Linked DNA regions of Homo sapiens: region 1 is linked to region 2. Evidence: fine-mapped expression QTL. A gene starts in region 2. The other region holds a variant in brackets. All regions are shown on one strand. Distances are between the middles of the regions. Region 1 overlaps TSPAN18 (tetraspanin 18). Region 2 holds the start of ALKBH3 (alkB homolog 3, alpha-ketoglutarate dependent dioxygenase).

Region 1 (5,378 bases), 900 kb before region 2:
ACCATTCCTAGTCACTCCTGCCCAGAGCAGGTCAAGGAGGGGCCTTCACTGAACACAAAAAGGACACAGTGTTTTTATTGGCATCTGAAAGCATCTGGCCCCAGGGAGTGCCTAGATAGTTCAGAAATACCTGGCCTTTCCCTGGCCCTATTTCAGAATCCCGAGGGTAAAGGGCTGATCTCACTTGACATGACCTGGGGTAAACTGAGAACACAGCCATGGAGTGGGTGGGGAGGAATGGTTGAGGAGGAACATGCGCACCTAGAAGGAAACGGAGCACAATGGAGGCCTCTCCCTTGCCAAAAAGGGCTGTGGGGGTCAATCCTGGGGCAGGCTCCCAGGACAGATACATGTGGCCTGGGGCTCTTTCAGGATCCCCAGTGGCCACAGCTCCTCACTTGGCTCAGCAGGACCTGGGTCCTGGCTGTGGCTCTTACTGCATAGACCGAGCCTAATGGCATCTAACCATCCTGGGAGGATGCCCGGTGTGTGGGCCCAGAGACCAAGACTAATGTCCCCAGAGATCCCCAGGACCTCCAGCCACTGGACAGCTGGCTGCACTGGGTGCCATCTATCTGGAAGAATCAAGACAGCCCTGCCCTTGGTGTCAGCTGACCTCAACACCTGAGGTTCTAAGAACCACAGACTGCCAGGACTGTCAGCTTCAGGAGGCCAGGTCTCAGCTGCCAGGATCACCTGTGTATCCCAGGGCCCCACCTGGCACCAGCCAGAGTAAGTGCACACACGCTTAATGGAAAGACTAAATAAATGCGGGTATTAACAAATGCTGGCTGGCTAGCACTGGGAAAGTCCTCAGAGACCAAGTGAGCCATCCCTCTCCCCATTTTACAGGTAGAGAAACTGAGACACAAAGAGATTTCCTCCATTGCAAATTCATTGATGGGGCTACCCTAAGGTCCAGCCACCCACCTACTAGAAGGCCCTTCACCTTCCTTCTAGAAGGCCAGCTGGAATCAATAGATAGTGCCTGCCTAGCTTGTTTTCCAGAGGATTCTGGAACCAACAAAAGTGCTGCAATTGATTGGTGATGTCTGCGGGGAAAAAGAGAGGGAGGAGTGACAGACCAGAGACCTCCCATTTACACCTCTTGGCCCCAAGGAAAGGGGAGATGAGGGAGAAACTCCCCTCTCCCCATAAGAGGCTACTATTTGCCAACTCAGGCCCTTAAACAAGAGGTGTGCTCCTTCTGGCTAGCTACACAAGTTGCACCATCCTGGGCAATCTCTCCCCTCTCCCCACCTTCCTTCCCCACCTCAGAACTAGAAAGAACCCAGCCCAGCCCCCATTTCTAGTTCTACCTCCTTCTTCCTCCCATGGGTGCTCTAACCACACCAGAAGACTAACTGCCCCACCCCCCACCTGGAGCATAATTCCCATCTGCTCAACCTCTCCAAGGGTTCTCCTGTGCTCTACCCCCTAGGGTATCCTTTCTGTTGGGGGGAAAAATCCTTTAAGAGGCACCTTCTCTCCTGAGCCAGCTTGCCCCAGAGCCCCGCAGACAGAACCCACACATGTGGTGCCTACCTGGGTATCCCTAGTCCCTGAACCAGGGCTTGGCATACAGTTAGCGCTCAATAACTGCATGGTAAATTAAATTGGCACGTCTACCCGGACACCCTCCTGGAGCTGGCATAAAGACTACAAGGAGTTGCAAGAAAGAAAAGGGGGGGAGGTGGGAGGCAGGCTTCAGGGAACCACAGTGTGATCTATTAACAGTGGGAGAGGAGAGAGAATGAATTCATTTCCTCCCTGTAGTAATTTGCCTGTAAATATTCACAAACCATGCAATTTCTCTCAGCCTTCCCATTAAAGACAAATGCATAAATAAACCAGCCCTACCCAGGGGCTTTGCACACAGGCTGTTGTTCCTCTCCTAAAATAATAGGGTGACTATTCACTTAGCTGCAACCTCCCCATCCCCACAGAATTCCGGAGGGGTCCTGGGAAGTGGGTGAGCTGGAGAACAAGGCAGCAGCTTGGCATAAGTAGGTGCTGGTGACCGGGAGCTGAAGCAGAGTTGCTTGCAGGACCCAGGAGGTGGCTGAGCCAGCAGCCCAGAGGCCAGATGAGGTGGCCTCACCTTGGCAGGGTGTCCTCCCCACCCCCAACCCAATCCCCCATAAAGGGTTCAGAGGTCACACATAGGTCTCTTCACTCCATGGATCCCTTGATATGGAAAAAAACAAACACCTCTTGAGATGCTAGAAATGTATGACATATGGGGGAGCACAAAAGTTCCCAAATAGGGAAGCTATTTGAGGGCCAGCATCCCCCAGGCAGGGTACCCTACTTCAGGGGCCATGGCAGGGCAGAAGTCTCCCATCTAGGTCCGCTCCTAAGCTACCCTCAGGTCTCTCTTAACATCTTTCTTTAGAACCAGGCCTGGGGAAGCACCCAGAGAGGGGTAAAGTGCCAGACAGTGCAGGAAGCCAGCTTGTGAGAGGGGGTATCTTTCTCCTCCCCAGGCTGCCCATGCAGGCTCCTGGGGCACCAAAAGGGAGCTTGGGTCCCAAACCCAATCCCTTTAAAACACTCAGAATATAAGCCAAATCTAGAGAAGCATGGTGAAACTAGACACACTCAACCAGGTCCTAGGATGACAATGGCCAGCCCTGACCCAGCACTTCCTCAGCTACCTTCCCTGGAATCCTCATGGCAGCCCTAGGAGGCAGGTTTCGATCATTATCCCCACTTTATAGACGGGGAACTGAGGCCCAGACTGTAGTCACACGGAGAGTCGGGGGCAGAGACAGGGCTCAAACCCAGACATTCCAGCTGCAAGTTCTGACTGTAAAACCACCAACACTCAGAAGAAGGACGGCAGAGCAGAAAGAAGCTGGACACAGGGTCCCAGCACTGGTATGTTGATTTCTTCTTCAGGAGAGGTGCTATTTTCCCTTTAAATATATGACGGCTGTGGTCTGCAGCCCACCCACATCCTCACCCTTAACCCCAGCAGTAGCTCTGTAGGGAAAGGTTATCGTGCCCAATTCACAGATAAAGAAACCAAGGCTCGTGAAGCTTAATGGTCTCCCAGCCAGCAAGTGAGAACCAGGATTTAAATCAGGGCCAATACCACAGCTGTCTCTGCTGGCTTCAGTCCCAGCCCCTCCACCAGCCAGATGTGACTCGGG[C/A]CAATCTTTCCCCAAGTGGACCTCAGTTTCTACATCTATACAGTGGTCTTACTAGTTCCTTTCCTGAGTCCCGGCCCAGGGTGGCTGGGCAGATAGAATGAGAAGACAGCGAATGTGAAGGCCACTGCAGAGCACACCAGCCTGCACTGCAGGCTGTAAAGCCCAATAACTGGGCCACTCGGTGAAGACTGACATTTACAACAGTGTGCCCAGACGCCCCACAGGATCCTCTGCCAGCAGAGAGATTCAATTATGGTCATTATGGTGCACTTAGGAAAACCAGGGAGCAGCTAATACATTTTAGAAAGATTGGCAACAACAGAGGTTGAATCAAAACGAGTTTTCTACTTAACCCTCAGTTAAACAGAAAATCCATTTAACCACAAGGCAACACCCTGTCTTCCCAGCCTCCAATCACTTTTATAAAAAAATCGTCTGCCACTTAGCTTTATATTTTTATCACCCTGAAAGCTGCCTTGGAATGAAAAATAAATTCATTGATGGAGAGAAAGATGTCATCGACCTCTATAGGTTAGCAGCCTGGAGCAACATCCTCAAGCCCTTGCTCCCTCCAGCGTGGCAAGAACACAATCCTTGTTTCCATCCCTGCCAAAGATGCTGGCGGACGCTGGAGAAAGCAGCCCCAGAGGCCCAAGAGGAGTGCAAATGTACACCTCCCACCCCCGCCACTAGAGGGAGCAAACCAAACCTTTGCAGTCACCGGAGGCTCCCAGAAGGAGGCTGGCAATGAAACGTGCCTGGAGAGGACCTATAGGGATTCGGTGACCTCCAAGTACGCTAAGCTGCAGAGCAGTCCAGAAGTGTGGGCAGGAACAGGAGCGATTCAAGTTAGGAAGAGTGTTCCCAACAAATGGGGAGAGGAACATATTAGCCAGATAGTTCTCCCTATTATTAAGTAAAGCAGCATTGACTACACACGTGCAAAAAGATACTCCAGGTACGGGGTTCCCAGATAAAATACAGGATGCCCAGTGAAGTGTGAATTTCAGATAAACAACAAATAATCTTTCAGTGATTCTTCCTAAATAGTACATGGAACAAATATTGCTTGGGGCAGATTTATGCTAAAAATTGAGTCATTGTCTATAGGAAGTCCAGATTTAGCTGGGCATCCTTTAATTTTATTTGCTGTACCTGGCGACCCCTCCCAGGAGGTATGCAGGTGACAGCAGACACTAGACACAGCTGAGTGTCCAACAGTAGGGGCCCTCCAGCCCTGTGATGCCCAGGAAGGAATCTCACAAACTGTAAGGCCAGGAGAGATGGGGAAAAAAAGCAGGAAGCCCAACTGAACGGACTTTCTGGTGTCAACTATTGAACACATGCCTGAGTGTGAACAAAAGCAGGAAACGAAGGAGGCTCTGGTCCTAAGAGAGGAAGTGAATGATTTCTTTTCCCTTCATTTTCCAAGCTCTGAATTGTTTTATTGTCTTAACAAGAACAGCCACACACACACAACCAAAGTGCTCAACTTTTCTTATCTTTTGAGATCAACCTGGTTGTTCTATCAGGTGGTGAGTCCTTCGAACTCAGGGAGTGGGAGTTTTTCATCTCTGAACCCCAGTGGATGCCTAGTGAATGGAGGAAAGAAAAAAAGAAGAAAGGGAGGGAAATAAGGAGGGAAGAAGGGAGGATGAAGGAGGCTCTGTCCATGCAAAAGCCAAGAGCTGGGAGGTCCCCAATTGCAAGGTGACTTCTGAGGACCACAGGGACCTCCAGGCAGAAGGAGCCAACTCTGTCACCCCAGGTCTCCTTGCTACCTCTCCTGAATAGAGAGGTTTTGAGGTCAGGAGCCTGGATGCTATCTGGACAGCAGTCAGCCCAAAGCCTGGCCCCAGGCCTGTGGGCCACCTGCCATCACTTCCTCTGCATTTACTAAGAGAAGCTGCCCAGCATGGGGACACACTGTGAGATGCAGGAATGAGCCTGTCTGAGGAGCTTCCCCCAGGGACAGAAAGCAGATACCACACCCCTGGGCTCTGCCCCCTCCTTCTCCCGTGGGACATGCCTGCCTGCCTCTTGGTTCAAGTTCAGTTTAAACAGATGTTCTGTTCCTAAGAAGCCCTGTCTTTGAAGTCCAGGAGAAAAATCTCAGCTCCAAAGGGACCTTTCCTACTGAAGAGACTCTCTGGGGAGTCTCGGCAGAAATAAAAAACAAAACCCCTGGATCCTTATCTCCTGGTATTTATGAGATTTTTAATT
Region 2 (5,378 bases):
CAGTGGTAGCTGAAGCAAGAGAGGGGACAGCCTCAAACCAGGGGAAAGTCTGTTCTCAGCACCTTCTACTGAGCAAGGGCCAATAAAGCCCACTTGGAGATGATCTCTATGACATGTAGAAACTAACTGGTAAAGTCAACAGAAGATACTGAAAGGTTTGAGGGTGTGGACTAAATATGAGGAACATTAAAGACCCACCCTTAGCTCACCATCAACAAAATCGGACAAAATATCAGCCACATTTTAAACAATTCCTTGACGTCAATTGAAATGGAAGTCCATTATAAACCAAAAGGATATAAATAAAAGAGAATGAGAGTTGTCCATATCCACACACACACAAAATCCCTACAGATTCTTGCCTGGCTGAGCAATGGCCTGGCTTTTAACAGGGGCAGCCCAGGCTCCCTGAACTCGGGCTCGCCGTCTTTTTTCCTCCATGTTGACCAAAAAGGCTTCTGCTCCGAGCTTTCAGAAGATTTTGTTCCTGTTTCAAACTACTCCATGGTATCTGTTTATTAAAACAAAACAAAACAGTGCTTTTAGTTAGGATTGTGAACAATTACTCCTAAGGCATAATTAATTTCAGGCAGAAGACTCTCAATGGCAATAGAGCTTCCATGTAAAATCAGTTTATGTCATCACAACATTTCATTCAAGAAGCCTAGTCATTTGGGGCTGCTGGCTTTAGCATTCACCTTTTGTAATCTTACCATAGTACTTTTGTTTCTTTCACAAGAAAGTGCATTTTAAGAAATTCTAAAATTAGGACCTATTATAAACCACATTCCTCTTAATAGTCCCCAAGAGTAGAATATAAGGAAACTGTACTATTCCCATTTTCACCTACATGGACATTGAGAAATCGGCTAAGACTGTTTCCAAGCATATATTCCATTATCACTGGCTGCATCAAACTTCCCTGGAAGTTTGTTCAAAATACCTATGGCCCACCTTCAGAAAATCTGATTTAGGATGGATACAGGTATTTGTCTTTATAACAAGCAGTGTAAGATTTGACACAATGCAGGTATGTATGTGGACGGTAAAGTTCAATGATGCACCCAAAGCCACTCAGGAAATCAACAACAGACAGATTAACATTCAACTTATATTAAACTCCTGTCTCCAGCTAACGGATAAATCCACCTCATAATGGCTAATAATACTAATTTGACAGTTGTACCAGTAAAAGCTTAGCCTACAGCAAATGCAGAAGCACGTACAGCTACCAAAACAACAAGGAAATTCAAGCCACATGTTCCACATCTGTAATCTATTTCTTTATGCTTCTACCTAAGAAAGCTTCACACCTCAAGTTCTCAAAGGTAAAAGCTCGTTTTATATTAATAGCTTGCTTAGACTATAGATTCCCAGGTCCCATCTCCCACCTCTTCTGATTCAGTAGAGCTGAGCCAGGCCCAGGAATCTGTGTGTTTAACAAGTTCCCCCAGATGATAAGCATGTAATTCATTTCATTTAATAGGTGGAGAGACGCAGAGGCTGCCATCTGCCCAGAAGAGTTAATGACAATCAAATACCAATTCTCCAATCCCAGGAGCTCCCGTTTGACATGTTCTCTCAATTGAGGCCCTAAAAGCGTAACACAATTACCTACAGTCCCCGCAGAGGATACGACTTGCTCACCTTCTTGCTCCATTCACTGGGGAGCCATATGTTATTTGCCAGGGAACAATTGTTGAAAATAGATTCCAGAGCCCCATCCCAGATCTACTCAATTTGTAGAGTCCCAGAATTTGTTAACTAACGCCACCCTCAACCCAGGAATTCTTAATGCACATAAAGCTTGAGAACCAGTGCTGTAAAATACAAGGACTCTGGCGCCAGCCAGAACTCGCTTTGAATCCAGATCTGTCACTTCCCAGCTGCATGGCCCATGGCAAATGACTTCACCTTTCTGAGCCCCAGTTTTTCCTCAGTAAACAGGGCAGTCACTTTCCGCACGGTTGAGGTGCAGACTAAGCGAGCTCCGCAGGTGGAAGAGCTTGGTCGTGGATAAGGGCACTTCCTTTTCCTAATTTAGATCCTTCTCTTTAAGGAGGCCTAGAATGAGGCCCCGGAGGTCGCCCAGGAAGAGACTTCAGGGGTGGTACTCGCACCCCCAGCCCCGCGCACCCAGCAGTAAGTCAGGAAGGCGCACTTGCGGGCGGAGCCGGGCGCGCCCGTGCAAACCCGGTAGGACTTGGGGCAGCCCTCGCAGCCCCTGACCCACTCCGCAGTCTGTGATCGGAACCTTAAGAGTGAAGCACCGACTCCAGCAACTCCCAATCACAGGCCGCGGCATCAGGCACTTCCTCTCGACGTTACGCAGCGCCGCCACTACTTCCGGTGCGCAGTCCTCAGTCCGGGTAGTCCCACATCCCCCGCGCCTGGAGGGCCTAATCACCGAAGGTGCTGATGAGGGGATATGTGTTGCAGCGGACAGGGATTGAGAGTGCAGGGGAGCGGTGTGAAGGGGTCGGGGTTTGGCAAAGGTGGAAGTGAAGGCGTGTCTCCTACGTGAGTTCCTCGAAACTGGAGATGTCCAAGCATCGGCATCTTTGTGGCAGAAAGAGTGACCGGGTCCCTGTGGGACTAGATAAAGGGAGAGGAGTTTGGGGGACCTGGTTATAATGTGTTAGGCAAAAGGATTTGCATTTTATCCTAAAAACCACGGAGAGCCTGAAATGAGCCTCCTTTGTGTTCCTATTGCAGCCTGTGCACACCTCCGAACACAGCATTTACAGCAGGGCGTAGGACCACGCCTTAATTCACCTTGGCTCTCTCCAGTGCTAAGCAAATTTGCTTGAGTGAACAGACCTACATTTTGGCCCAGACACCACCACTTACTAGTTGTATAATCTAGGGCAAGTACTCTGCCTCTTTTTAAAATGGGTATCGCTCTTTTTGGGAGGATTAAGTGAGATAATGCATTTAAAGAATATAGCACAATGCCTGGAACACAACAAAAACTCAAAAAATGAAAAAGAGCTCACCCCATTTGAGCTCATGAGAAACATCTTTAAAATGGTCATGTTAAACCATGTACTTTACAGTATGAAAATAGCAAAAGTAGCACTGAATTGACTGTTTTATGCAAGTCATTCTCTAAGATCCGCCAAAGTATAGTCACTGTGGAAATCTTTAAAATAAGCCTGATATGAGTGTTTACCTTCAGGAAGCTCATTATAGGTACACCTCATCAATGTGTACCTATATTGTTGCTACTATCAAATCCATTTTCACAGCACTCATTATTATTTGTTATACTTTGTGACACTGAAGGAAAAAAATGATTTATCCTAGACCTGAAAGGAGAGAAAATGCTAAGGCCACACTACAGTTTTTTTCCCCCATCAACTAATTTGTCAATGTCTGCTTCTGGCTCAGGAACTTTGGCTGTATCTTCTAAAATATGTTATTTCTTTCTTTTCAATGATTATAGTTTTGGAACAGGAACAAAGAAGTCTGGATTGAGGAGTTCCTAAAAGTAGTGATTGACACCTCTTCAGCCTCTACGTAGTGTATTTCTCAAAGATCAATCCATGATTTACTTGCATCTGAAATTACTGCTTTTTTTTTGTTTAACAGAATCACCTGCGTTTTTAACAAGCACCCAAGTGATTCTGGTGCACAAAAATTTTGAAAACCTCTAGGACATATGTAGGATGACAAATTGTTCTGGTTTGTATGGGCCTGAGGAGTTTCCCAAGACACAGGACTTTAAGTGCTAAAGCCAGGACAGTCCTGGGCAAACTGAGATGGTTGGTTACCCTAGACGATGCGAGTATATAGTATTAGATGTTCTTAATGGTCTTGGCATCCTCATTAGGGTCTTGACTTTCTTATTTCTATTTGAAGTGTTTGAGTTTTTATCAGGAGGTGGTGGTAGAGACCATGGGAGAAGGAATGAAGGCGAAGTGTGTTGCCAATTATCAACCTATTGAGTCTCCATTCCAAACCCACCCTTCACTACCCTGTTTGCAATATTGGAAGGTTTCTCCCTTGCCTTTTGGTTCAATGGACAGTGAGCTTCATCAGTGGAGGGTACTGGAGGAACTTTAGAGGAGGAAGGGGCTCTTTTTTCTGGTTCCAGTGTGCTCCTCTCAGCTGGCTCTTTAGTGCACAGTGGCCCACAGTGTTTGACTACTCCCTGTGGGCTGAATTACCAGGTTAGTTTCTCTTCTGAAAGTTAAGGCATCAATTGGGAAGGAATGGAATCCCAAAATTTGAAATAAGCACTCTGCTTAGACCCAGATAACTGACAGTCTTGAACACCCATGGCACCCTGAGCCTTCCTTGGCAGTGGAAGTAGCTTGTCCTCCTAAGTCTGAGGAGACTAGTCATTCTTTGCTTGAAGACACTGCTAAGCCCTCAGCTGGGGCAGATGACTTCAAAAGGGAAGCTCATTCTCTACAAGACCCAGCAGAATTTACTTCCCCTTCTTCTGCCTCATTGCCACTAGACCCTAACTAGGTTCAAACCTCATTAATGCTCCAGGTAGGCTGCTACACACTATGATCTAGGATAAAACAGCTTGCACGCTGAAAGAACTATACTAATTACACGTACTTTGCTAATGTATGGAATGTGTGGAAGTGGATTCTAACTGTTTTAAACTAAGGAGGGCAGTATATAGTACTATATCAGGCCAATTATATGGAGGCATTTACTAGAGTGCATTTACAGACATTGTGTTGACTCATGCAACTGGAAATGACTCTAACAGCTTATTTGGTGGATTTATTGAAGATTTAACTCAACAGTAGTCTATGGTTAATCCTACTGAGATGCCAAGGCACGATGTAGAGGCGGGAACCCAAAGACTGAGAAGGGTAGAAATGTTGGACTGAATTTATCAAATGTGACCCTGACCCACGTGCAATAGACACAAACACAAAAACTATATCCTACAACAAGATCCAGAAGATGCTCCTTTTTCTAAAGCATTGAGAAATACTTTAGACAAGGGAGCACTTGCATCCTTGGAAAGCTCTGTGGTTGCTCTCCTTTGCAGGCCAGGTGTGATCATGGAAGATGCCACCATTGAGTTGGGTCCCCTGGTTTTACTGGAGATGATGAGGCCAAGTGGCAGCACTTAATTATTAAAGGTAAGGACATTGATCCAATACAGAAGCCAGGACATACCAGTAATCAGAATATGTTGGTCTATAAGGATCTTTGGTAGTGGCCATGGTGTCCCTAGGAATGAAACAGATGGGCAGCCTACTAGAGAATTGTTTGATCTATCTAACAGAAAAAAAGTCTATGTCTAGTAGCCAAAAACCTTACCTGGCCACACTGGATAGACATATCTCTCACCTAGTTTCCAGACAAGTCATATCACGACCCCAAACCTCTTGATTGACAGGGAAGCC

The links.
Region 1: its variant is fine-mapped to the expression of ALKBH3 in cerebellar hemisphere (GTEx, PIP above 0.99).

What each region holds. Positions count from the first base shown.
Region 1 is chr11:44,774,060-44,779,437 of GRCh38, reverse strand. All of the region lies in intron 2 of TSPAN18 (tetraspanin 18), which reads right to left. Among named protein-coding and RNA genes, the nearest start is that of TSPAN18-AS1, 40 kb to the right of the region's middle. RefSeq lists enhancers at 1,560-2,059, 2,060-2,561, 4,526-5,300. The variant C/A (reference allele first, on the strand shown) is at 3,156.
Region 2 is chr11:43,877,716-43,883,093 of GRCh38, reverse strand. It overlaps ALKBH3 (alkB homolog 3, alpha-ketoglutarate dependent dioxygenase), which reads right to left and starts at 2,263. Exons shown (of 10, transcript NM_139178.4): 1 at 1,915-2,263; 2 at 363-511; 3 at 1-9. The coding sequence starts at 441. It overlaps LOC105376644 (a long non-coding RNA gene), which reads left to right and starts at 2,357. Exons shown (of 3, transcript XR_001748200.2): 1 at 2,357-2,412; 2 at 5,018-5,111. RefSeq lists an enhancer at 2,278-2,477.